3 separate regions of the Homo sapiens genome follow, and regions 1 and 2 are each linked to region 3. Evidence: fine-mapped expression QTL. A gene starts in region 3. Each other region holds a variant in brackets. All regions are shown on one strand. Distances are between the middles of the regions. Region 1 holds the start of EIF4B (eukaryotic translation initiation factor 4B). Region 2 overlaps SPRYD3 (SPRY domain containing 3). Region 3 holds the start of IGFBP6 (insulin like growth factor binding protein 6).

Region 1 (7,753 bases), 88 kb after region 3:
CCAGCACTTTGGGAGGCCGAGGCGGGTGGATCACGAGGTCAGGAGATCGAGACCATCCTGGCTAACATGGTGAAACCCCGTCTCTACTAAAAATACAAAAAAATTAGCCGGGCATGGTGGCGGGCACCTGTGGTCCTAGCTACTCGGGAGGCTGAGGCAGGAGAATGGCGTGAACCCGGGAGGCGGAGCTTGCAGTGAGCTGAGATCGTGCCACTGCACTCCAGCCTGGGCTACAAAGCGAGACTCCGTCCCCCACAAAAAAAAGAAAAAAAAAAAAAGGAAAAAAAAAAGAAATTACTGTTGGATAAGTCTTTTTTTTTGAGACAGAAATTTTGCTCTTGTTGCCTAGGCTGGAGTGCAATGGTGGAATCTCGGCTCACCGAAACCTCCGCCTCCCGGGTTCAAGCGATTCTCCTGCCTCAGCCTCCCAAGTAGCGAGGATTACCGGCATGCACCACCACACCTGGCTAATTTTGTATTTTTAATAGAGATGGGGTTTCTCCATGTTGGTCAGGCTGGTCTCCAACTCCCAACCCCAGGTGATCTGCCCGCCTCTGTATCCCAAAGTGCTGGGATTACAGGCCTGAGCTACTGCGCCCCACCTGTTAGATGAGTCTTAAAAAAACAGGCTAAAATTCCTTACAAGATCTTCAACTTATTTAACTGTAGCAGCAGCACTGACTCAGTCAAAATATAAGCAGCAGGTTTAAAGGAATTAGCCCTTGGAAAGCAAAATCAATAAACCTAAAGTAGGTGCCCGTGTTTGTTCCACTCCGTTTCATTCCAGTTAACTGAGAAAAGATGTTATCTAAATCCTCCATGCCCTTTGCTCCCTCAATACCTAGGCCCATTACATGTTTAGATTTCAACAGTGTTCCCTCTGCTTTATAAGTAAAGCACTGTTTAATGCTCCAGGTTTATCAATCCTTTGCAATTCAACAATGAACTGGTCCAATTCTTTAATTTTCTCTAAATCTTATGTGAACTGGTTAAAAAGTTAACAAATCAATCACCTCACAAAACAAAACCTGTCCCAATTATTTATACATGGTCTACAGTGGGGAAAACACACCTCCAGCTCTTTATATACCCATACAGGTTTAATAAAAGATCTTAAAAACGGAAATATTGCTAAGTCCAGAAGCCGTTAAACAAGAGACAACACATTCATGGTTTTCTTAATAAACAGGATTTGTTATAATAGATACTAAAATAAATACAGCCTACTTCTTAACTCAGAGTTTCTCTATCTCAGCACTGCTGATATTTTAGCTTAGGTAATTTGTCATGGGGGGATTTTAGCAGTTATCTCTGATTCTGCTCATTAGATGCCAATAGTAATCCCCGATCCCCATTCCACTCTGACAACCAAAAGCGTCTCTGGACACTGCCAAATGCTCTGGGGTGGGATGAGGGTTTGGGATGAAAAGACTGTCCCTTAGCTGAGAACCATGTTCTAAGTGATGTTTCACTTCAATAAATAAAAAGATAAATGAAAAGGAATTGTTAGTCCTATATAAAGGACTTTTCTTTGGGGGTGATAAAAAGGTTCTGAAATTAGATAATAATGATGGTTGAACATCTCTGAATATACTAAACCCCACCAAATCATACAGGGTCTTGCTCTGTCACCCAGGCTGGAGTACAGTAGTGAGATAATGGCTCACTGCAGCCTTGACCTCCAGGGCTTAAGCAATCCTCCCACTGCAGCCTCCCAAGTAGCTGGGACCACAGGTACATGCCACCACCCCTGGCTAATTTTTAAAATTTTTTTTGTAGAGACGTGGTCTCACTATGTTACTTAGGCTGGTCTTGAATTCCTGGGCTTAAGTGATCCTCTTGCCTTGGCATCCCAAAGTGCTGGGATTACAGGAGTGAGCCACTGCACACGGTCCAAACTGTATACTTTAAAAGTGTAAATTTTATGGTATACAAATTACATTGAATAAAGCTGTTACTAAAAGTGAGTTCTGCCACATTCTCCATAATTAAAAGCTACTTTAGGCCAGGTGTGGTGGCTCATGCCTGTAATCCCAGTACTCCGGGAGGCCAAGGTGGGAAGATCACCTGAGGTCGGGAGCTCGAGACCAGCCTGGCCAACATGGTGAAACTCCATCTCTAGAACCGCTTGAACCCAGGAGGTGGAGATTGCAGTGAGCTGAGACCACGCCACTGCACTCCAGCCTGAGCCATAGTGAGACTCTGTCTCAAAACAAAAACAAAAACAAACAAAACAAAAGCTACTTTAAATAATGAATAACAAATGTTTCCCTAAACCAACAACATTGCATAAACACAATCGATCCACCCAGAGTGCCTAGAATTAGACTAATTATATTGGTGTTTACAGCCCAGCCATGAAAAGACATTTCATGCAATGTAATACAATATTTCACCTTCACCTTTACTGCACTATATAGATGCTCCCTGACTTATGATGAGACTGTCAGGATAAACCCTTCTCAAGTAAAAAAATGCATTTACTATCCGGATAAACCCATTGTAAAGTCAAAAAGATCCCAGTGCAAGCCACCTTTTGATTTAGTTGGGGATTGGGTAAGTTTAGCATAGTAAAGACTGAGTCAAAACTCATAAGCTCCACCATCTTGACCCCCGTACGGGTTCAGTTACATGACCTCTCTGTGCCCAATTACTTCATTTTGACAGAAGATGCCATACTACCTTTTCCTTATCCCTCCAGGGATACTCAATTTGATCATATACATAATCAAACAAAATAAGTGCCCAATGCATGCCATGCTAACCATTACACAAAATGGGAGACAGGAGGTACACAAATTCAAGTTAAACTTCTTGATTTGGTACTTTCCCACTATCAGGACCATAGCAGTATCTACTACAAATTTAAGAAACTGGCTCATAAATGTACATAAGGCAAACCTAATTACAAATAATTACTTAAAATACTGTACTCAAGTTCAGTTATTTCCTCTACCATCACGAAAAGAGAATTCCAGAATGTTTTGAGATGAAATATACCTCTTTTTTCAATGACATTACTTAGAAACACTGCTTTATCTTAATTGACACTATTCTGTATTTGTATTTAAACTTTCATAAAGAGTTTTAATTTTGGCCTTCTGGGTATCTTACTCACAGAATAACATATACATGATAGAGGATGGAACTTGACACTAGGGAATCTGTAAGCAATATATAATGGCACCCCTTAAAACCATTTCACTGTGAGAGTCAGCAGTGTATGAAAACAACCACTGCAGAGCATCTTCTCCCTATAAAAATAATCAAATAAGATGTCACACAGGACTGCATTTTGAAGCATTATGGAAATGAAAGGCCTGTGCATGAGCTTACATATGTTATTTCCAATTTTAAAGTTTGTTTTTGTTTTTTTTTTTTGAGACGGAGTCTCGCTCTGTCGCCCAGGCCGGAGGGCAGTGGTGCAATCTCAATTCACTGCAACCTCTGCCTCCTGGATTACAGGCGTGAGCCACCACGCCCAGCCCAAAACCCCGCTAATTTTTGTATTTTTAGTGGAGACTGGGTTTCACCATGTTGGCCAGGCTGGTCTCGAACTCCTGTTCTCAGGTGTTTCACCCACCTCAGCTTCCCAAAGTGCTGGGATTACAGGCATGAGCCACTGCACCCTGCCCAATTTGAAAGCATTTTAAA[T/C]GTTAACCTGTATCAAACGCATTTGATTCCCTCTAGGTAAGGGGACAGCAGATAAATAATGACCACTTTCCAGATAAAGAAACTGAGATTCAAGCGGTAACTGGCTTATTACTGGCAAGTCTACTAAAGTAGTCACAATGAAAATTTAAGAAAAATGAAAAACTTCGTATTTTTAAGATTTTTTTTTGAAATGGAGTCTTGCTCTTTTGCCCAGGCTGGAGTGCAATGGCACAATCTCGGTTCACTGCAATCTCCCCCTCCCAGATTGAAGCGATTCTCCTGCCTCAGCCTCCGGAGTAGCTGGGATTACAAGCACGCGACACCACGCCCAGCTAATTTTTGTATTTTTAGTAGAGACAGAGTTTCACCATGTTGGTCAGGTTGGTCTCCAACTCCTGACCTAGTGATCCGCCCGCCTCGACCTCCCGAAGTGCTGGGATTACAGGCGTGAGCCACCGCGCCCGGCCTTTAAGAATTCTTTTTAAGAAGCAAAGCAAGGAATTAAGTGTACTGGCTCAATGTATCAAGTTTCTAGGAATTCAAACTATCCTCATTCTATAGTTAGTTCTGAGACCTACCTTAGTTCTTGAAGGTCAATAATGGATCACACTGGAAACTGGTATTGCTGCAAAGAATTTTTTGGTCTCATTTAACAGTAAAAGAGGCGTATGAAGTTGTTTTATGTATTTTCACACAGAACACATAACATCCATTTCCCACATCAGGGAATACTGGTTACTTCACAAAGCCAGTGTGACTGGAAAGAGGAGCGGGGAAACAATCCGATAAACCCCAGATTCCTCAAGAACAGACTGAAAGATGTGACTTGTGCTCAGATACCAGTACCAGCTAAAAAGATTTACTGAAGTGAATTAAAGGAGATGAGGGTTTTCAAGGGGGTAGAGTAAATATGGAAGAACAAGAGAATGGGACGTCAGAGTAAATCCCTTTTATCAGTCTGGATTTCCCTCAACTCGGTAAAACGAAGGACATGAATTGCTGTCCTATGTTCCGCCTCTAAAAATTACACAAAAGTTAAGAAAACACAGATTTTCTTCACTAAATTACGATACTAAACTGTTAAGGTGGCAAATCCAGACCAAGTAAGTACTTTAAGCAATGGTTAGTTTAAAATATATTTAGGACTTTTACTAGCCCACTGGAGAAAAAAATATGAACATTTTTGTAAACTTCAGATGCTTTCGGGCAGCGTCCTAAACTGATGATGACACCTTGATACTTTTAAGTTGCTAAGGAGTCTCAAAGATTATGACCTTGCTCTGCCAGCTGAGAGCAGTGTGGCCTTAAATAATATTCCTTAGCTGAGAAATACCACTAGCTCTCTGCAGTACCTCAGGATGGAAGGAGACAACATGCACAAAAGTGCTTGGTCAACTGTCAAGCGTTACACCAATGAAAGATGTTCAAATGCACCTCAAATTTCTCAACATTTTCCAAAGCCAACCAAAACCCTTAGCTTCTTTGTAATAGAGACGATGAATTACTAGGTAAGAAATGAGCACCCAGAGATAGAAGTTCAAATAATGTTTTGAAGAATGCAAGGTCATGCCAGAGAAAACAAACTATATTCCTCAAACTAAAATCAATGCTACAAGATGTTGGGTCATCACTGCTTTTATAAGCCCATTAGAAATGTAATTAGACTTGCAAGGCACTGATACTCCCCTCCAAGGTTGTCTAAAGAAGTAAGCAACTCCAGCCATTAGTAAGCACTATTTTAAAAGTACCTGCTGGTAGTTGCACAGTTACCTTAAAAAAAAAAAAAAAAAAAAAAAAAAAAGGCTGAAATCTACCATTGGAGCTATCCAAATTCAACCAACATGGAAGCGCCGGAAGCGAAACCTGATCCTGGCATATAGCTGCGCTGAGTAAAAAATGCCTCCAATTGAGTATGAGAAAAAAGCCTAGAAGGAAATCTAGGTGCACACCGGTGCTTCTCCAACACGTGGGCGCACCTAACTGGATTCCCCACCCCCATCTAACGCCAATAGCACCAACCTCCAAGGCTAACACACACACCCTTAGAAGAATACAGGCACAGGGCCCACACTCTAGAAAGGGAAGAGACAACCTAAAAGGACATAAGTGCGCAACACAGGCGCGTTAAAAAGCTTCCCATCTGGGTTCTAGCGCACGCATTGAAGGCGCGCCCGTCTCTACTACCCTCGTGTCTCCTACCGCGCACGCGCACCGCTGCCTTCCCCCGCCCCTCCACCAACTCGCGCTCGCGTTCCAACTGCTCCCCCCCACCACACTTACTCCCCTACCCCCCACTCCGGTCCGCTACAGCCTCGCGCCTTGGAGACGTAGTCTAATGTGCACTCGTCCGCGCAGCAACCGCCTCCTTCCTTCCTCCACGCCTTCACGCGGGCACGGTGATTCACGTCTACGAAAAGGCCTCGCACCACCCGCACACCTTTCTGCGCCTCCTTCCCCAATTCAAGCCAGAGTCTACCATTACTGCCTATTCCAATCTCGCGCAGAAAGGGTGAAAAGAGTGTGAGGGGGAGGGGAAGGTGTCCTTCCCCTCCCCCCCAAACATCCAGAGGCAGTAACCTAACAGGGCCACGCCGCCAGCCTGCCGCAGCCCTCAATTCAGAAAGGAACCAGTGCCAGCAATTCCCCGACTTCAGGAAATCAGTGGATCACGCTCGGAGGGGGGTTTCAGAGCCCAGTCCTTGGCCGCGCTCGGCTGCTCGCTCACCTGAGGCCGCCATGTTGGGAGAGGGAAAGAGAACGCAAAAGACCCGGATGAGGCAATCACGTGATTATAGCGGGCGCGTCGAGCTAGGAGACGCGAAGCTGGGAGGGGGCGGGGAGGTGAGGACGGAGACAGGAGGCGGGGCGGCGCTGCTCTAGGTTCGTAAAGCTGCGCGGCGAGGTGGCACGCCGTCCGACGGGAAGACATGCGCGACATGTGGCCAAAGGGGCGGGGCCTGGGTTGTCGCGAAACCCCTCACGCTTTACGTAGGGCTACACGCGAGCGCGGGGCTGGAGCTGAGTCCTGGCCGGCCTCCTGACGCACAGACTTCCTGCCGGAAGAGTGGCGGGAAGGGCGGGGCTTCGCTGCTGCTTCTGCTTACTCTGCACGGAGCCGGTGATGGGTGTGGCGAAATGGATGTGCTGAAAGGGAAGATTCTGAGTTTAATGTACTTTTTTGAGACGGAGTTTCGCTCCTGTTGTCCGGGCTGGAGTGCAATGGCGTGCGCGACCTCGGCTCATTGCAACCCCCGCCTCTCGGGTTCAGGCGATTCACCTGCCTCAGCCTCTGGAGTAGCTGGGATTACAGGCGCCCACCACCATTCGCTGCTAGTTTTTTGTATTTTTAGTAGAAACGGGATATTTCACCATATTGGCCATGCTGGTCTTGAACTCCTGGTCTCAGGCTATCCACCCGCCTCGGCCTCCCAAAGTGCTGGATTATAGGCGTGAGCCACCGCGCCCGGCCTAGTTTTTAAAAGCCACATCAGAAATCACTGATTTTATTTTTATTTATTTTTATTTTTTGAGACGGGGTCTCGCCCTGTCTCCCAAGCTGGAGTGCAGTGGCGCGATCTCGGCTCACTGCAGCCTCAACCTCCGGGGCTCAAGCAGTTCTTCCACCTCAGCCTCCTGAGTAGCTGGGACCACAGGCGAGTGCCTCCAGGACCAGCTAATTAAAAAAAAGTCTTTGTGTGGAGACAGAGTGGCGGGCTTGGGGGGGGCGGTGTGTCTCCCTGTGTCGCCTGGGCTGGTCTCGAACTCCTGGACTCAAGCATTCCTCCCTCCGAGGCCTCCCACAGTGCCGGGATTACAGGCATCAACCACTGTTTGTTTTCAAATTACTTTTTGTAAAGGCAAAACAAATCGAACGTCTTGTGTAAGAATGGTTTTAATGAGGCATATTTAGACGGAATAAGAAGGTAACAAATGCTGAACACTTAATTGTCATGGGCTTTTACCTCATTTAATGGTCCAATTTGCTGACTAGGTTTAGTCCAACTTAGGCCTTTAGGATTTCTGAGACTAGGGCTATTCATGCTTCCCCTAGCTGATGTTCCATTTCATTCATTAAATGAAAATTTTTGTTTCCCACCGT
Region 2 (6,924 bases), 27 kb after region 3:
TGTAAGTAGCGGGTGGGAGGGTGGGAGGGGCTGGGTCGGAGGAGGCTGGGCAGAACACCTGTGGGCACATGGTCATGTCTGAATTGCTGGGAATGGGGAGTCGGGACAGTGTCCGTGTGGGGTTTGGCAAGATAGCCTAGGCTCTTGACATGAGTCCTTGAGTCCAGATCTGTGTTTTCTTTAGCACATGTTCTCTTTTCTTCACTTCCTCCTCTTCAGGGAACTCAGGTTCGCAGTTTGACCCTGGGAACAAGTAGTTCTGCTTTGCCTTTTTTGGTTCCTTCAGCTTCTGGTGTCTTCTACAGCCCTGCACAACTGCCTTTGAGGGGCTGGGGGTTGATCTGGAGGCAAAATGCCTGGCCCAGGCTTTTCATTCAAAGTGTTGTGGGGCAGGTGTGGTCAGAAGTCCACACATGTGGTGGAAGGTTCTTAGCCATCTTTTTTGAGGAAGTGTCAATGTCAGTTTCTATTGTCTTATCCCTGCATTTGATAGAGGATTAGAATGGAGGCAGATAAAGATTCAGTGAGCATCCTTACACCTCCAAACTTGCTTCATTTATCTTTTCCTCATACCTGCTTTAGTATGGATTTTAAGCTTCGTTGGGAAGCGTGTGGAGCTTGAGAAAGGGGAATTCTTCCTCCCCGGATTTTAAGTTTTGTTGGAAAATTCATGAACCTTGAGAAAGGAAAATTCTTCCTGTCTGCCTCAATACACTGTGCTGCATTGGGAGTGAATGGACGCCAAGTCCGGGATCTGGCCCTGACCTCTAGTGGGCTGCTCAGCCCTCCCACTTCGAATTGTCCCTCTCCTACCCCCTTGCTCCTGGCCTGGCCTTTTTCTCCACCCTCTGGCCTTTCCACCCCAACCCAGGCTGTTTTCAACTCAGTCTTTGATAACAAAACAGAAGCAGTGGGGGGTGGGAGCGGATTAGGAGCCAGGCCTCCCCCTGGTGGAGTGGAACTCAGGGAAAATGACAGGAAGTGTGCCCTCCTGCTGCTTCTGACACTCTGCACCCCCGTCTGGCATCAGGGTCCCAGGCTGCAGCGACCGAGAGCTAAGAGGCCTCAGATGCCCACTCCGTGACTCTCATGTCTTTCCTTTTTCCCCTCAATCTACCATCATTCTGACAACATCTACAGAGTTAAACTTGGGGCTGCGCCAGGGCGATGTTCCAGCTCTCATCTCTGACCTCTCCTCAAGAGTTTTTTCCTGGCATCCTTTCTCTGCCTGGACCTGTCCCCACTCTGCTCTCAGCTCCTCCCAGGCAATCTTTTCTAATTGATGCAGAATCCTGTAGACATTTATAAATAGCCTTCCTTCCTCCCCACCCTCCCCCCAACACCTTCAGCCACTTATTTAAGAGTGTTTTTCTTTTTTAGACATAAGCTGTTGAATTGGGCCCTTCTCTCAGACCCTCACCCCAGCTTGGGCCAGGTGGCAGGGTGGGAGCACTACTCCTGGGGCACCCGTTCCTCTGGGGCCAACTTGGATGTGAGCTTCCTGAGGGACATGTGCCTTTTTCCAGTCATGCCAACTTTCCTTTTTTTTTTTTTTTTTTTTTTAAGACAGGCTATCACTCTGTCACCCAGACTGGAGTGCTGGTTCACTTCAGCCTCCAACTCCCAGGCTCAAGGGATCCTCCCACCTTGGCCTCCCAAATTGCTGGGATTAGAGGCATGAGCCACTGCCCTGGGCCTCAACAGTTGTTAGATTTGAGTCTTTGGATATAGACAGACCTGGCTCTTTCTTGAGTGGAATTCTTCCCCTGCCTCCTGTGGCCTGTTTCCCCCTCCTAAAGAGTCTACCTCCTCAGAGCTCTGAGGGGTTGAGGAATTGCTGGGGCACTTGCCTCTCACCTCATCCCTGCCTCCAGGCCTCGCAAAGTGAGGTAATGTGGTGGAGGGGAGCTGGGGGCGGTAGGTAACAGCTGGGGGATTAGACTCATTCTGTGTTTGTGCCCTGTTCACAGCTCCTCTGACAACTCCTTAGTGACAGGGGCAACAGCTTTGGTACACACAGGGTGGTGAATGAGGCCCCGCCCTCCCAGGGGTCCTCCCCAGACCCAGCCCAGAGGGAGGCTGTGCTGGAGCCTGAGCTGGCCAGGAGAGTGTGTACTTGGTTCCTGTTTCAGTTGCTTCTGGGCCCTCAGGGCACTGAGCCCTTCCTTGCTCCTGTCAAGAGGGATTAGGGTCTCTGCTGGCAAGGGGAGGAGGGCGGATACCGGCAGGGGAGAAGAGGCTGGGAAGGTGCTACTGGTAGAGGGAGGGTGTGGAGTGCACGAGACTGTCCACACTCTGGTCTGCAGCCGCCACTCTGTGGCACTGAGTCATGTCTTTGGCTTCTTGGGGCTTTGGTGGTATGTGTGTATTAGGGGGAGACCCAAAGAAAGGGCTCCATCTTCCCCCACCAAAAATGCAGAGAAACATTTCTGTTGATTGGACATTGTTTGAGAGGAGACACATAGGGTAGAGTTGTCTGGGGAGTGGCCATCGTCCTGGTTGGCCTAAGGGACCATTGTAGTTGGAAGTAAGGGCTAAGATGAAAGATCATTTCCTTCTTTGTGATCGGCAATTCCAACGTAACCCCATTTACACTGATTTAGGGAGAGGCAGCAATGTGTATTGGTCACTTCATTAAGTCTTCCCACTTGTTTTTGGAAATTCAGGTAATCTTATCCCAGTTTACTGTTGAAGAAACCAAGGCTTAAGGAGGTGAATGTCATTTGCCTGAGGTTAGCGGCTGTTAAGTAATAGGAGTTAGGATTTGAACCCAGGTCTGTTGGATTCTGAGGTACAGGTTGAGGGACCAGCATCAAGATCCTAACAGTTCAGACTCTAAGGGTTAACCTTCACTCCTCCTCTAGGTTCCTAACAGCTATAGACCAAGGAGGCAGAGGAATGTACTCAAGAAAGAATCTGTCAGGGAGGCCAAATATTCCCCCCACTTCCACCCCTCTGAGTTCTCTGGGAAGGCTCAGGAGGGGTCGGGGGAGCTTTGTCCAGGAGCAGGAGAGTGGATCAGGAGGTTTATGATGGCTTTCACTGTGAGGGCTGGGCGGTCCCCTCTGAAGAGGGCACGCTGTACAAGCCTCACCTATACACTGTACAAGTACCTAGTCGTCCAGGACATCAGCATTCTGTCCGAAGTGCTCTGTGGTTGGCAGGTAGAGAGTGGGTTTTAAAGACCCATGTTGGGGTAGTCCGTCCTGGCTTTTAGCGTGAGAAAGCACCTCCACCCTATCCAGAGACAGAAATGCAGCAGCTACCCTCTTCTGAGCTGAGGCAAAGGGAGGGGCTGGCCGGGTATTTCCCAAGGATCAGGGTCTGGATCGGCTGTCTTTTGGCTCTGGAAATGGAGAACACTGTGTTTCCTACACCGAGGCCAGTTGGATAGAATGGGTCAAAGGCAGCTGTGGGGTCCCCCACCCAGTTCTGCAATGCTGGGTGGAGAGGGTGGGCTGGGGGCTGCTCTGCCTGGGTGGAGTCTAAACTAGTTAATGTGGATCAAGCCACACCCCTCCTGGCTTCCCGGGGAGAGAGGCAGAGGAGGAACCCAGGCTGAGCAGAGAATACACCATGAACAGAAGTCAAACAGTGTGGCCTTGGGGATGGGCTTAGGTGGTCTCCCGTGCATGCTGCTTTCCCCCTCATCCATCCCCAGTTATCTTTGGAGAGGAGGGAAGGATGGACTTGAGGTGGCGGGGCTGAGATCCAGGGCTGAGAAAGGCACCAAGCCCCTCTAGTCCTACTCTCAGAAGGGGTTAGTAGCACCCCGCTCTAAGCACCTGAGCTAAGCAGCGGCCGTCTGAGGCTGGGAGTGGGGATGCGGGAGCAGCCTCTGCTGGAGACACGCACAGGCTTCTGTGCTGGTGCAGGTGGGCATAATTCCTTTCCTGTTCAGGCAGGAATCTGTGAGAGGTGAGAGGCCGGCGTCCCAAAGCTTGCCAGGGAGACGTGGAGGAGGTCCCTAGGCAACATGTTTCCTTCAGGGCTGCAGGGGTGGGAGGGTAGAAGAAAGTCGTGAGGGGCAGTTGGGCTAATTAAAAGGAGATTAAGGAATCCCAGGTGAGGCCGAAGGTGGGGGAAAGAGGGGATGGGGTTGAGTCATCACCCCACTATTACCATGACAACTGACAAATAAATCCTCCCAGATTGGGGGTTGCCGCCCCGTCGTGCCCAGGCAGGACCATTGTGGGACTGAAGAGCCCCAAGAACCCATCAGTCATCTCCCCTATCCTACCTCCACGCCCCTACTCCAACTTGAATGAGCAATGAGGGGCTGGGAACAGCTAAGCCTGCCTCTGTCTTCATTTTGACCTCTCCTCTCCCTCACATGAAATGAGGGAGTAGAGCTGGGCGTTCTGGGTCCCTGGGCTCCCCTCAGCACCTCCCTGACCCAGCTAAGAACAGCTGTGTTCACAGCCAAGTAAAACAAGGACCTTGAGAAATTATGTCAGGCCCATCCCAGGCAGAA[T/C]TGGCTTCTGAACTCACCCGCTTCCCCTGAATATCTGGGGTTGGCACCTAACTTCTGCATCCTCCCTGTCCCCATTAGGCCCCCTGAGAAAGTCATCAAGTTTCCTCTCAGCTAGTCTTGCTTCTCCTTTCCCCTGTGTTTGGGACCCTGGGCGGACCTTTCCCAGCAGGAAAGGCTGCAGGGTTTTTCAGCGGGCGAGGATGCATCTAGAGCCCCCTGGTGTGCCGCTCCCCTAGCTGTGCTGCTTTCCCCGGCCTCCCAGAAAGTGTGTGGGGGAAGACAGCGTGGGCATTCAGCAAGGGGTGCTCTCCCCTTTGCCTCCCACCCCATCCTGCTCTTCCATGCTGGCCTAGAACTTTGGGGCCACATTGTATCTCTAGGATTCTTTCCCTTTCAGCCAGGAGTTTTTGTCAGACCTGGGAAAGTGGGACCCAGACTGCCTTGGGCCCAGGTTTCCAGGGTGGGTGTCAGCCTGTCCCCTGACCCCCATCTGGCTCTTCCCCCACAGCTGCTGGAGTACTTAGGGAAGGGCAAAAGCATCGTGGATGTGGGGCTGGCCCAGGCCCGGCACCCACTCAGCACCCGCAGCCACTACTTCGAGGTGGAGATCGTGGACCCTGGAGAGAAATGCTACATCGCCCTGGGGCTGGCACGGAAGGTGGGCACAAAGGCTGAGCTTTTTTGCTCATGGAGCTGCTCAGGTCTGGGGCTGTTGGGGCAGCACCAGGAAGCTCTTAGGAGAAACCAGGGGAGCCCAGGCTTTGGAGGGAGGGTGCTAAGCTGAGATGGAACACAGTTGTATGTGTCTGCTGTGTAAGAGTACACACCCCATGTGACCAAGGACCTGAGACAGGTCATGACTGCACCACACACTAAGGCCTGGGGGGAGGGGGTGGGACATGCCATGGCTCTGGCCTTAAAAGCTTAACTAACACTTTCCTCACCCTCCCTGGTTCCCCTGAAGCCCCAGTGCCTGCAGGGTATGAGTGTGCAGGGTTGGCACTCTCTGGGCTGTGGTCTGTCCCAGAGGTTCAGATGCTACTCGCCACTCTCTCCTGTCTTGTTTATGCATGGGACCATAGATTTTCTTTTCTCTTCTTGGTGCAGGACTATCCCAAGAACAGGCACCCTGGCTGGAGCAGAGGGTCTGTGGCTTATCATGCAGGTGAATAGCGGGCTGCCTGGGAAAGGTGGGATGGTGGGAGATGTGGAGGCATAGGGACATCCACTTTCCCCTCTCCTGGCCCCTCACAAATGGCCTTGCTGTTTGCCCTGCTGCTGGCTGACCTCCCCTTCCCAAATCGCTAGTGCTTCCTCCTCATCTGTGTTTTCCTCCCAGCTCTGGAAACCAGGGGAGCAGGACAGGAGAGGGAGATCTGGGCCCAGATGGGACATTCCAGGCCTCTGAGCTGGTCCCCCCGTGCCCTTCCTGCAGACCCTCATTTCCTCATTTTCTTTTTTCTTTTGCTGCTTGGTTTCCTTGGCTTTCTTTAGAAGAAAACTGAGCCTAGAGTTCCTCGACCCACCTCCCCCTGCCTGCCCTCCCTGGGTGTTCATTCCTTCCCTAGGGCCCCCTCCTCTGACTCATTTCCTAAGGGTTCTCCCTTACCCTTACCTTGAGCAGATGGATACTACGTCTCTTTATTTTATTTGGTGCCCCCTTCCCATATATCTCGCTCCAATTTTTTTTTTTTTTTTTTTTTGAGATGGAGTCTCACTCTGTCACCTAGACTGGAGTGCAGTGGCATGATCTTGGCTCACTGCAACCTCTGCCTCCCAGGCTCAAGTGATCCTCCCACCTCAGCCTCCTGAGTAGCTGGGACTACAGACGGGCGCCACCACGCCCAGCTAATTTTTGTATTTTTAGTAGAGATGTTTCGCCATGCTGGCCATGCTGGTCTCAAACTCCTGACTTCAGGTGATCCACCCTCCTTGGCCTCCCAAAGTCCTGGGATTCCAGGCGTGAGCCACCGCGCCCGGCCTCTCTCTCCATCTTTGTTTCCGCCCTGACCCTTCCCTTCCTCTGAGGGGTGGGAAGTGTTCAGCTTCATGAGCCACTCTGGGGGTGTGGTGTCAGCCCTCCTTCCTCAAGTGTTTGTCCTTTCCCCTCCCTCCAACAGACGATGGGAAGATCTTCCATGGCAGTGGTGTGGGGGACCCCTTTGGGCCACGCTGTTACAAAGGGGACATCATGGGCTGTGGAATCATGTTCCCCCGGGACTACATTTTGGACAGTGAGGGTGAGTGGGGTAGGGGTGGCCAGCCAGGCTGCTTGGGGCCGAGGGTGGAAAGGCACCACAGGAGCTCAGGTTTCCTGGTCTCCTAGGGGACAGTGATGACAGTTGTGACACAGTGATCCTGTCTCCGACTGCCCGGGCCGTCCGGAACGTGCGGAATGTCATGTACCTGCACCAGGAAGGGGAAGAGGAAGAGGAGGAAGAGGAAGAGGA
Region 3 (7,284 bases):
CTACTTGAGAGGCTGAGGCAGGAGGACTGCTTGAGCCCCAGAAGTCAAGACTGCAGTGAGCCATGATTGTGCTACTGCACTTCAGCCTGGACAACCGAGTGAGACCCTGTCTCAAAAATAAATAAATTATTGGCTGGGCGCAGTGGCTCATGCCTGTCATCCCAGCACTTTGGGAGGCCAAGGTGGGCAGATCACTTGAGGTCAGGCGTTCGAGACCAGCCTGGCCAACATGGTGAAACCCCGTCTCCACTAAAAATACAAAAATTAGCCTGGCATGGTATCAGGCTCCTGTAGTCCCAGCTACTCCGGAGGCTGAGACAGGAGAATCGCTTGAACTCGGGGGGGCGGAGGTTGCAGTGAGACGCTGGACCACTGTACTCCAGCCTGGGCAACAGAGTGAGACTTTGTCTCAAAATAAATAAATACTTTTTAAAATTAATTAATTACTTAATTAAAAAAAATTAACTACTTAATTTTAAAAAATTAATTAATTACTTAATTTTAAAAAATTAACTAATTACTTAATTTTAAAAAATTAACTAATTTAAAAATCAATCAATTAATTACAATAAATAATAAAATAAATGAAAAAATGGAGAACAAATTCAAAGGACTATTTGGGGCTTTGGGCTTTGGGTGAAAAGACCTGGCTGTTCCACCAGAGGCCAGAAGGGGGCGCACGAAGCCGGAGAGCTGGGGCAGAAGAGCAACGGATGTAGGAGGGGGGCCAACAGGGACCCAAAAGGAATGTGTGTCCCTGCTGTGACCTTGCTATGACTCAACCCACCCCTCCCAGGCCTGAGATGTGGTTACTTCTGGGGCACTGCAGTGGGAACCTCTCCCTTCTGGTACCCTGTGACCCAGGCCAGCTCAACCCCAGTGGTCCCAGGAGCACATGGATTCAACCCTTAACCAAGATAGGCTGAGGGCAGATTAAGAAGGTGCAAGGAATGAGGGGCTTCCAACCTGCAGGTTGCTCCTGGCTCTGGAGAAAGTTTCCGGAGGGTCCGGGGAGAGCTCAGGACTGGGAAGGGGTGAGGAAATAAGTCAGGGACAGGAAAAGGCAGAAAGGGGAGCATGTACTGACTGCTTGGAATTTGCCTAACATCTAATCAGATATCAGAACCCCTGAAGGGATCCTCTTCCTCTGTGCCTAAAGACAAGCTCCCAGCTAACTACCACTCACAACCCAGGAGACATTTCCCCTGCAATCCTGAGTCTGATCCTTCTTCCTCAGGATGCCCACCCCTCCCCAGACCTTCTCCTTCATTCCCTACATTTAGCACCCAACCATTTAGTTCCAAACTGCCTCCTCTCATCCACCCAGACCACCTTTTAGGAGGACGCCCAGAAGCCTGCACTCGGGCATTTGGAACTGAAAGAAACTCCAAGTGAATTCTCCATCCCCTCCCGTGGAAGGAACCCAGAGCCTCTGGGATGCGCAGTTTGCATTTCCTGCCCTCCCCATCTCCCCGCTGCCCCCCATGTTTTCACGGCTGATTCACTTCTGTCCCACCCACCCAGTGACTCAGCTTCTGCTCTCCTCCCTGGAGCAGGGTGGGGTAGGATGGGTGAACGATTCTGAGCAGGTTTAAATCATAACCCTGATTTGGCAGATTCCCTCTTTCCCCTACTCTTTCTCCCCTCTCCCCTAACCTACGCCCTAGCCTGCCCTCAGTCCCTACTCAAGTCTAATACAACCCTGGATTTGGGGCCTCTTCGGTTCTAGACGCCTCCTGTTTAGGTGCTTCGAACACCGGTATTAGGAGGAAAGGAGTCATTTCTCAGTGTGTGCAGAATTTCAGAGTCTGGGGTTCCCCTCCCCTTTTCTCCAAGTGGAAGCTGAGAACAACATTTGGGTCCTTTCCCCAGCTTGGCCGTCTAGGGTTGTAGGAGCTGGGCCTGCTGGAGCCCATGGGATGGCCCTAAAACCCTCCCATTTCTCCCCCTGCCTCCCCCAAGTTCCCACCTGCACGCACACTCCATCAAGGGAAAATAAATGGAGCAAAAAAGAAGGCCGAGAGCGCAGACACCTTCTGCTGTATCACCAGGTCCCCTGGCTGCACCTCAGCTTCCTGCACTTGCCCCTTCTCCCCCACACAAATGTGCCCCCCAAAGTCGGAAGCGTCAAGGGCCAGGGCGGAAAGGCTTGCCGGGCCACCCACTCCCGTCTCCCCAGGACCCTGCCTGGAGGACGCGGGTCTCACGTGGGCGGGGCAGGGGCGGGGCGCGGACTCACCAGCAGGCGCGCGGGCCGGAAGGCAGCGGCCTCGGCCGAGCAGCAGCGCCCGCAAAGGCGCCTCGTCGTCCTTGGGCGGATGGCACTGCAGTCCTGGGGCGCAGTTAGGGGTGTAGACCCCGCACTCCTGCCCCTCCCTCCTGAGACAGCCCTCAGCTTCCGCGCAGCCCTCGGCTGGCGACCCCCCATCCTCCTCCTCCACGCAGCCCCCTGGACAACCCGCCTGCACCCCTTGCCCGCAGCCTGGGCACCGCGCCAAGGCGCCTCCTGGGCTGGCAGCGAGCAGCAGAGCTAGCAGCAGCAGCAGCGGTGGCAGCAGCCTGTGGGGGGTCATGGTCAGGGTTTGTGCCCCGTCCTCTCCTTCCAGAGCAGTCGCAGCGCAGCTGCTGCCCGCCGCCGCCCCTCTGTCTTAAGTAGCCGCCGGCCAGGGGCCGGGCCCTTTAAGAGCCAGGTGAAGGGGGGTGGGGGAGAGGGCAGGGGCATTCCCTAAACTGGGTGGGACTGGAGAGGGCCCCCCCAACCTGGGTCCTCCCCACTCTTCTTTCCCTCTCCCTTTCCAGTTTCTGTTTACTTCCCAAATTGCTCTGATTTTTCTTGCTTTGTTCCCGGGAATCTCGGCCCGGAATTTGGGAGCTGTACAGCTGGCTGGAGGGACTGGAGGGTGGGGAGGAGCGGAAGAAGGGGAGGACGGGAGTGCAATCCACTTAGTGTGTATGTGTAGGACGACGAGGGGCATGCAGGGACCCGGTGGGGAGTGAGAAGACGGGGGCTGAAAGGGAACTGAGAAGAGATGGTGTGTGTGGATCACAAGAGGAGTGGGCAAATGTGGAGGGACAGAGAAAAGATGGAGAGGGTGGATAACGGGGTCTTGGGAAATTCTACTGCTGATGGGAGAAGTAGAACAGGGCAGAGGAGAGGAAGGGCAAAATTGGGAAAGGAGTAAGAGAAAGCACCCTTGAGGTAAGACTATGGAGAAAAGGGGCCCGAGGGGAACCAGACTGGGGTAAGCCAATGGGGGAAGGGCCGGGAGGCAGGGAGGGATACAACTTGAATGAACCGTAGGAGACCCTAGCATTGTGGTGGGCGCATGCGGAGTCTGGAAGGATTGGAGAGGGCTGTGTGCAGGGTGAGAACTGGCTGGGAGGCAGGGAAAGGGGGAAATTGGCAGGTTGAAACTAGAGAGGGAGAGAATTAAAGGAACTCGTATTCGGGATGCTCTTGGGGACAGTGGCCAGAGAGCAGACCCCACCCCCCTCCCCATCCCCGTCCTTCAGGTAAGCTCGCTCCTCCATTCCTCTCCTCTCCCAGAATCCGTTTCCTTCCCTCCCAGTCATCCATGGGGTTTTCTAGATTCATCAGACTGTCTTGTGCCCAGGGGACTTTGGGGAGGGACTACTCAGCATCTTTGCCTACCTACTTGTCCGCCTTCGCTCCAAGGGTCGGGTTCCACCGCTCCCCACCCGCCTTCCCCAGGCAGTGTCCCGCCCATCCCAGGCACTCCTAGCCAGGCCTCACAAGAGAGAGGAAGAGGGATTGTTTCCTTCGGCAACCCACACCCACCCAACTCTGGGTTATGCAACAGGGACCATCTCATTCTTTCCTAAAACAAGGGCTCTGGGCAGTGACTAAGTTTAAATGCTGGGCCCCAAGCAACAATGTCAGCAAGGCCTTCTTGAACTTTTAGGTAAATAGAAATAATACGAACCTCATTGTCAGCACAGCCCGCTTCGCCATGCAACCCTGGGACCCTAGGACATGTGTTTGGAGAATGGTGTTTTCCTGTTTCCCTGAGATACTGATGCAGACTGGAGAGGCAGGGAGGAGAGGGTTGTGGGGCAGCTGATGGGAGAAGCTACTGCTGATGGGAGAAGTAGACCAGGGCAGAGGAGAGGAAGGGCAAAATTGGGAAAGGGGTGAGAGAAAGCACCCCTTCCACCAAGGCTCTTCAACCCCCTGCCACAAGCTCTGACCAAGCTCCCTGGAACCAAGGCTGTCAGAGATGGGTTCCAGAGTACTGGGGTCCTGCTGCACACCCTTTATCACTATTTATTTTGTCCTACACATGGTTCTGGCTAGGGTCTTAGGGTCTTTCTCCTGGACTTCGGGTTGGTGCTCCTGAATAAGATGGAAAGCCTGTGGGAAGTTGGGAAGGGGAAAGAGATGGCTGTGCTCTTGCAGGATCCCAGTGTGGCTCTTTTTTAAATTTAAATTTTATTTTATTTTATTTTAAGTTCTGGGATACATGTGCAGAATGTGCAGGTTTGTTACATAGGTAAACATGTGCCATGTGGTTTGCTGCCCGTCAACCCAACACCTAGGTATTAAGTCCCGCATACATTAGCTATTTGACCTGATGCTCTCCCTCCCCTAGCCCCTACCCCGCCACAGGCCCCAGTGTGTGTTGTTCCCCTCCCTGTGTCCATGTTTTCTCATTGTTTTCAGCCCCCACTTATAAGTGAGAACATGTAGTGTTTGGTTTTCTGTTCCTGTGTTAGTTTGCTGAGAATGATGGCTTCCAGCTTCATCCATGTCCCTGCAGAGGACATTATCACATTCCTTTTTATGGCTGCATAGTATTCCATGCATTTGGGTTGGTTCTATGTCTTTGCTATTGTGAATAGTGCTGCAATAAACATACATGTGCATGTATTTTTATAATAGAATGATTTATATTCCTTTGGGTATATACCCAGTAATGGGATCGTTGGGTCAAATGGTATTTCTGGTCTGGTTCTAGATTTTTTTTTTTTTTGAGGCAGGTTCTCATTTTATTTCCCAGGCTGGAGTGCAGTGACTCCATCACGGCTCACTGTAACCTTGACCTCCTGGGCTCAGAAGATCCTCCCACCTTAGCCTCCCAGGTAGCTGGGACTACAGGCACACACCACCACGCCTGGCTAATTGTATTTTTAGCAGAGAGGGGGTTTCGACATGTTGCCCAGGCTGGTCTGGAACTCCTGGGCTCAAGTGATCCTTCCGCCTTGGCCTCCCAGAGTTCTGGAATTATAGGTGTGAGCCACTGCACCCAGATTGATGTGGCTCTTTAAAGATGTTTGTCATAGTGATTCATGCCTGTAATCCCAGCACTCTGGGAGGCCAAGGTGGGAGGATCAATTGAGCCCAGGAGTTCCAGACCAGCCTGGGCAACATGACCAAGCCCCATCTCTACTAAAAATACAAAATATCAGCCAGATGTGGTGGTGCATGCCTTTAGTCCCAGCTACCTAGGAGGCTAAGGTGGAAGGGATGAGCCAAGATCACACCACTGCACTCCAGCCTGGAACAACCAGAGTGAGACCCTGTCTCAAAGAAAAAAAAAAAAAAAAAAAAAAAAAAAAAAAAAAGGCTGTGCTACTCCTTTGTAGGTTATCGTTCAGAAAAAGCCCAACACTTTGCCAGCTTCTAACATCCACCACTCCCTCCTCAACCCTCCTCAATTTCCAGCCCCCGCTTCCCACGCTGCTACCACTGCCTCAGATTCTCCCTGCCTGCCGCTCCCACCTGCCCAGCTGTTACTTTCTAGATTCTAAGCCCGATTGCACAGTCCAGTTCCACCCACCACCCCAGGATTACACTTCCCTGTTTCCCCCTCCCTCTAGCATGATCCCCAGTTGTATGGCCATCAGCACTGAGGGTCTAACCGGTCTCTTTGCAGACTGAGACGCTTGAACTCTGCCTTCCTGCCATTGGGATGCCCTCTGCCTTAGTACCCAGGGCAGAAATCTGAAGCACATGTTCAGCACTCAGACCAAGAGTGTGGGCCAAGGTACAAAACTGTCGGATTCTGTCTGGCCTTTGTGTGAGAAGGGTTTGCTGAGAAGTTTCTTCCAGGCTGAGGAAAGGCTAAATAGCTTGGGCTATCACTTAAGCTTTTCCATAAACAAACTCTACTGGAACTTCCTCCTCCGCATCTACATTATACCCTGGTTTTCTGATCCTTCATGCTGTGTCTCTCACACTCAACCCGTCCCTCTAAATTCATGGTGCCCCAAGTGCTGACTTCCTTTTGAGAACAAGGGATAAAGGAAGGGGCCTGCCTGGACCATATTCAGCTTTAAATTTGAGACGAGAAACAGTGGCACAGTCCACAGACAGAAAGTCCCAGAGAGGAAGTTCAATGACCACATCACATCATGACATGGCCTAAGGCTGACGTGGGCCTGATGGGAACTACTGTGTAAACCTCAGCTAACCTGCAGCCTCTGTTTTCTGCCATCTCTCCCACACATACCATCCAAACTGGTCCTGCTGAAATGTGCTCCTGATCCCATAATTCTCTTCTCCTCAAGGATTTCGGGGGCACTTTACTTTTTATTTCTTGGTTTTTAAATTTTACTTTAAGTTCTGGGATGTATGTGCAGAATGTGCAGGTTTGTTACATAGGTAAACATGTGCCACAGTGGTTTGCTGCACCTATCAATCCATCACTTATGTATTTATGTTTTTTGTTTTTCGTTTTTTTTGAGACGGAGTCTGGCTCTGTCGCCCAGGTTGGAGTGCAGTGACGCGAACTCGGCTCACTGCAACCTCTGCCTCCTGGGTTCAGGTGATTCTCCTGCCTCAGCCTCCTGAGTAGCTGGGATTACAGCCACGTGCCACCGTGCCCGGCTAATTTTTGTATTTTTAGTAGAGACGAGGTTTCACCATGTTGATCATGCTGGTCTCCAACTCCTGACCTCATGATCTGCCCGCCTCAGCCTCTCAAAATGCTGGGATTACAGGCATAAGCCACCATGCCCAGTCCATATATTTATGTATTAAACCCCACATGCCTTAGCTATTTGATCTGATGCTCTCCCTCCCCTTGCCCCCCGACCCCACAGGTCCCGGTGTGTGTTATTCCTCGATGTCCTCCCCTACCATAGAACCTGTGCTCCACCTGACATTCAGGGTCCCGTAGACAATGACCCTGAAACACACTCTGCTTCAGTTAGCTGGCTGAATCACCTTCCCCAGAACCCCCTGGTAGTTTCTCATCTTGGGGATTGAAATGGGATAAGGGGAAATGAGGATGAGGCATAATTGGTGCTCAGAGATCATTTCTT

What was found. PIP is the estimated chance that this variant, and not a neighbour inherited with it, causes the effect.
Region 1: its variant is fine-mapped to the expression of IGFBP6 in whole blood (INTERVAL, PIP 0.95).
Region 2: its variant is fine-mapped to the expression of IGFBP6 in blood mononuclear cells (TOPMed, PIP above 0.99). The same link has a PIP of 0.9 or more in whole blood.

The regions. Positions count from the first base shown.
Region 1 is chr12:53,005,123-53,012,875 of GRCh38, reverse strand. It overlaps EIF4B (eukaryotic translation initiation factor 4B), which reads right to left and starts at 6,420. Exons shown (of 15, transcript NM_001417.7): 1 at 6,380-6,420. The coding sequence starts at 6,392. RefSeq lists enhancers at 5,562-6,305, 6,306-7,049. The variant T/C (reference allele first, on the strand shown) is at 3,655.
Region 2 is chr12:53,066,363-53,073,286 of GRCh38, reverse strand. It overlaps SPRYD3 (SPRY domain containing 3), which reads left to right. Exons shown (of 11, transcript NM_032840.3): 6 at 1; 7 at 4,983-5,132; 8 at 5,582-5,639; 9 at 6,595-6,714; 10 at 6,801-6,924. Among named protein-coding and RNA genes, the nearest start is that of SPRYD3, 9.6 kb to the left of the region's middle. RefSeq lists enhancers at 404-904, 728-1,022, 905-1,405, 6,847-6,924. The variant T/C (reference allele first, on the strand shown) is at 4,475.
Region 3 is chr12:53,093,007-53,100,290 of GRCh38, reverse strand. IGFBP6 (insulin like growth factor binding protein 6) reads right to left here and starts at 2,624. Exons shown (of 4, transcript NM_002178.3): 1 at 2,240-2,624. The coding sequence starts at 2,573. RefSeq lists silencers at 604-819, 2,107-2,226, 2,237-2,316.